Linked DNA regions of Homo sapiens. The protein of the gene in region 2 purifies or fractionates together with the protein of the main gene of each other region. This does not show direct contact. Each region holds a gene or a part of one and is shown on either strand. Other genes may lie near its edges.

What was found. Proteins that work in one complex are often made in the same cells at the same time.
Region 1: the proteins of CD46 (region 2) and CSTF3 fractionate together in Homo sapiens (co-fractionation; one large-scale study listed by BioGRID). This does not show direct contact.

What each region holds. Positions count from the first base shown.
Region 1 is NC_000011.10:33,086,225-33,088,583, forward strand, and holds part of CSTF3 (cleavage stimulation factor subunit 3), read right to left. Parts: intron 918-2,359; coding exon 764-917; intron 1-763. UniProt on the Homo sapiens protein: One of the multiple factors required for polyadenylation and 3'-end cleavage of mammalian pre-mRNAs.
Region 2 is NC_000001.11:207,793,026-207,796,162, reverse strand, and holds the end of CD46 (membrane cofactor protein isoform 3 precursor), read right to left. Parts: intron 2,645-3,137; coding exon of another isoform or gene 2,568-2,644; 3' UTR 659-2,567; downstream 1-658. UniProt on the Homo sapiens protein: Acts as a cofactor for complement factor I, a serine protease which protects autologous cells against complement-mediated injury by cleaving C3b and C4b deposited on host tissue.

The DNA of each region.
Region 1 (2,359 bases), on a different chromosome or scaffold from region 2:
AAAGTCAGTTTTTGTCAAAGAGTGTTTCTGAGTTACACAAGTCATTTGTTTAGCAATCCTGTTTCAAGTCAATTATTCAACAGTGTATTTAATCAGAAGGGCCTTGTTCAAAAAGAATCTAGAGAGGCTACTAACCCATTCCTAAGTAAAGAAACCAAATCTATCAGTGAAGAAAGTTTCCACCAGCTGTTCAGGTAATCTGCACATAGCAGCATTCCTTTTTTTTTTTTGATACAGAGTGTCGCTCTTGTTGCCCAGGCTGGAGTGCAATGGCACCATCTTGGCTCACTGCAACCTCCGCCTCCCGGGTTCAAGTGATTCTCCTGCCTCAGCCTCCCAAGTAGCTGGGATTACATGTATATGCCACCAGGCCCAGAAAATTTTTGTATTTTTAATAAAGACAAAGTTTCACCATGTTAGTCAGGCTGGTCTCAAACTCCTGACCTCAGGTGATCCACCTGCCTTGGCCTCCCAAAGTGCCAGGATTATAAGTGTAAACCACTGCACCTGGCCATAGCAGCATTTCTGAAAACCAAGTATTACTGCCAAAATGGGTTCCTGGAATCTGGATCATTGAAGTTTTGTTTTTAGGACATTCTTAGTTAATCTAGTTCAAAGATTAAAGCTAAATCACTTGTCATAGTGATCCTAAGTCTAATAATTAACCCACAATTGAGAGGCCATGTCACTTTACCCCCACGCTTTGGATTTAAATCAACAAACAAACCAACGTCTCAGTACTGGATCTAAAGTCATGGCTTACGTGCTAAATGTCGTGGCTGAAATGGAATCATCTGCTGAGTGTCTGGTTTAGGGTATTCTGGTTTTCTATCCACTTCATCTTTCAGAACAGGCACTATAGAAGGAGCTACAACTGGGTCCGGAATTATAGCTGCTAGCTTAGCACGGGAGACATCCTGAAAATGCAGAACAGAAGAATCCTAAACCTGAAAAAGGGACTACTAGAGAATAATCATGCAATAACCTTGAGGATACAGTGTGAATATCTGGGTCAAAACCACAGAAAGAAAATGGAGACGGATAAGCAAGGACTCTAATGATGGTAAAGATTGTTACTCAACAAGGAAAGCTATTTGGTTCTAAGACTCAGTGTATCATAACTTTACCCCACACAAGTTACAAGTCATTAAACTTAGTGTTGCCAGGCAGGACATTTGTAGGACAGATACAAGCTTTTTTGGGTAGTCAGACTGGGAACCAAGTAGAGGCCAGGATAATTTGGAGGAAAATTCAAGATTTTAGATCTTCTGACACCTCCCTTCCATTAGAATTGAACACCAGTTTCATTAAATGAAGAAGCTGGATTAAGTGACTTCCTGTTTTGTGAAGGCATCACACCGGTTAAGATTTTGCTAATGCAATGAAAAATTATTTCCAATGTACTATTTATTACAGGGGACAAGGAATATTTACTGAGCAGACACTATTCATCAGGCAATTTTAGCCATTCTGTTTTTAATGAGGGAAATAGTAACATCTCCATTATATAGAAGGGACTGAAGCTCACAAAGGTTTTGATATTTCCCAGGTCACACAGCTAATAAGAAGTAGAGAGAGGAGGATTGGGAGGGCAGGCCTCTCTGACCTCAAATCCATCCACAGTCTTCTTTTCAGTACACTAGCATTGCCCTGCCAGGGCTGAGACAAGATATGCCAAAGGAAGCAATACAGTCACCTATGAACAGAGGCCCTATCTCAGAGGAGCTCCTCTGCTCCAGACAACCCAGTGTTACTCTGTCTGTCTAGAAACAAAAGAACCCCTTTTTGCCGCCATCAAGGGATATAAAAGCATTCCACTTTCTCAAAATTTGTTGAAATGGAGTTGGTGACATCTGGTATTAATTATATAAGCAAATCTAAATGGTAGACACATTGGGTATCGCTTTTTAAAAATCTTTCTCACAGATACATACATACCATACCACCCACCGTTAAACACAGAAGCACATTAATCCTTCCCCAAAAAACAAAAGAGTAGAAATAGAAATACAAGATGGAAAACATCATATTCAGGAAGTAGTTCTACTCCTGAATACTTACTCTCTTTTTTTTTTTTTTTGAGACAGAGTCTCACTCTGTCACCCAGGCTGGAGTACAGTGGTGCTATCTTGGCTCACTACAACCTCCTGGGTTCAAGCAATTCTCCTGCCTCAGCCTCCTGAGTAGCTGGGATTACAGATGCCCGCCACCAAGCCCGGCCAATTTTTGTATTTTAGTAGAGACGGGGTTTCACCATGTTGGCCAGGCTGGTCTCAAACTCCTGACCTCAGGTGATCCACCCACCTTGGCCTCCCAAAGTGCTGGGATTACAGGTGTGAGCCACCACACCTGGCCACTA
Region 2 (3,137 bases):
AACAATGATTTTTGCAGAAACAACCAAATCCTACTAGTTACATAAATTTTATACTTTGTTAGGACTTGGGTTTTTATTTAGCTCTACATATGCGATCATAGGATGCAGAAGATATATCTTCTACTGGACACGTATATATAGATGCTTAAATGTGGCTATCCCAAGGTTAGGTAATAATAAAGACTATAAGAGCTGGGCAGAAATCAGGCACAGTTTCATGAAGGGTAATATCTGAGCTGGGCCTTGGAAGATGCATAGGATCTCAACAGGACAGTAGGTGTTTCAAGCAACAATGAACTAGGAATACAGCAGAAAGCACAGGGGAAATGGTCAGGCTTGACTGAGAGTAGGTTATTTGAAGAAGTGCAATAGAAAATGCTTGGGGAAGAAAGTTGGGATTTAATTGTAAAAGGTCTTCAAGTATCAGGCTAAGAAATGTGGACTTCATCCAGTAGGTAATGTGATGTCACTGGATATCTGTGCAGTATCTATGTGATGGGTTGGGAGTGGAGAAGCCTGGGGATACTTAAGGGTCTGAGCTAGGAGGGACAGGAGGAATGGCTGTGGGAGTGGAATGGTTAGAAGATGGGCCCAATTAGAAACATACTTCAATTTGAGACAAAACCCACTAGAAATAAACACATCATCATGAAACATCTCCAAATGTACAATTTTATTTTAACAGATTTCAAGAGTCCATTTTTTAAAAAATGAGCAATAAAGAACCTCTATCAGTGAGACTTCTCATTTTATAGCAAATACATTTTTGCAGCTTAAATTTTCTTGAATTCATATACGCTTCTGTCATTTAAACAAACTTCCAGAGAAAACTGGTCTCTATATATTTAAGTAACAAATTTGACAAAATACATATTTATACATATATAGATCTCTAATATAAATATTAAATTTGAAAAAATCAAATGTGAAGCAGAAACTGCTATACAAGTATATTGTATAATATTTATTTTATACATTAAAGTATTTGGTTGAATATACTTCAATTAGGTTTCTAAAAAACACCATTATCTGCTTCTTAGTAATTGCGACATTCTTGAAAAGCATGTGAAACGGGTATAAACTTCAACTCTGTGCTTAATTCAGAATTCCTGTTTGTTCTCCTCAAACTTTTATCTTCCTAAAGCATCTTGCCAGAGACTACAAAGGAAAGGAACATTTACAGAGCACTATAAACATGTCTTTGGACAGTAAAACAGTATTTATTCTTCTACACTCTTGATTTTCCAATCATATCTTCCTCAAGGCAATGTTTCTTTGGCCCAATTTGTGCAACTAAACATAAAATTTCAAAACACAACTTTTAACAGTGTGATATGAAATGCAGTGGCAGTCCCTGCTTTTCGCCTGCTGGCTTCTTTGAAAGAAACTGCTTGGCTAAGGGACTCAGTAGAGGGCTGAGATCTGCCTGAGTATAAAGTGCTACCTGAGCTATATTTACTTCTTCCATCCCTTGGTACAATCAACAGCAAATAGACAAAATGAAGTTACCTTCCTGAGATACATGGCTTACTTTGTACTCTGCCTTTTAGGAGATGAGGTAAGACATATACATAGATGGCTTTTACTAGCCAAGGCAATGTAAATGGACTAAGATTCTCATGTGACTTGAGGTTATCTGATGAATTTATTCTCTTCAAAACCACCTACTTTTAGAGGGCATGTTTAACCCCTCTCTTTATTTAAGGAGGGAGAGAAAAACACATGTAACCAGAATTCAGAGTGGGTTACTCAACCTAAGAGAACATACGGAGTTCTCTTTGGGAAAACAACAAGACTACAGTGTTCACTTCGCACCATGAAGTGGCACTCCTGTTATGGCTGTCAGAGTCCTCTCACTTCTTATGAAAGGATGCATCTGATTCTGAAATTACTGATATATTCGATCAGTTAGGGATGTTTTAAAAAGTGAAAACAAATGCCACACATACACTTTCTAGCTTTCTGAAATCACCGAACACATTACAAAAAATAGAGAATTTACCCTATTAACTTTTAGAGAATTTTCCAATAATATTCTTGGTTAAAGAAGCCAAGTTTGTGCATATTCCCAATTTTCAGTGTTCTTGTTTTTATGCACAAGAGCCAAAGTAGTATACACATATTTTTAAGGGCTTTTTACAATGAACGATATATAAAATACATTCTATAGTTGGTGAAAGAATAATCTTAAGAGTTGGCATTAATCTTTGAACAAAAAAGATTTCAAGCCACTTTCTTTACAAAGAAAATATAATTTCATTGTGAACTATATTTCTCTAATTTTGCCAATTTTATAAAATACAGCATATCCCTGCTTTAATACAACCAGGCATGCTGTGCTGACTGGTCCAATAAATCTAAGTGTTATTTAAGGGAAAGCAGGCAATCTGTTCATACCCAAATTCATACAAGTTTCAAAGAAGCATCAAAGGATGCTACCTACATTCAAGCCACATTGCAATATTAGCTAAGCCACAGTTGCACTCATGAGAGTGAAACTACAGAATAACAACTATTGAAGATTTTAATAGAGTCAAAAGATGAACTGGCAAACCAGGTTGTGGAATCTATTCAGCCTCTCTGCTCTGCTGGAGTGGTTGATTTAGTCTGGTAAGTGGCATATTCAGCTCCACCATCTGCTTTCCTGCAAACCAAGGTATAAAGATCATGTCAAAGATAAATATAATTAAGTACAGAAATTAAATTCCAGAAGCCTATTCAGAAAATGAACAATTAAAAAAATATAGTAATGAGCCACCAACCTGGGAAATAAATTATTCTTTTAAAATAATTTCAAATGTTCAACTGGTCTCACTGTAAAAAAAACCTTCCTTTATCCCTGTCTTATATTTTTGATCCCCTCCAAAACAAGAAATAGAGCAGTAGCACACAAAGTACTTAGTAACTATGTCCTCATTTTGATGTAGGGCCAATGGGAAAGACTGGAGACAAACGCATGCTTTCCTGATCCCTCCATTTTAAAGCTGTAGCTCTGGCACAGAACCTTTAAAAAGATAGTGGTTCTAACTGTTCAAGTATGTGATGCCTCATCTACCCCTCACTGTCAAGAAAATCATGTATTCCACTAAGAGTCTCCTAAATAACTAAAGTTTACGTCACACTTTTAGTATAACAAT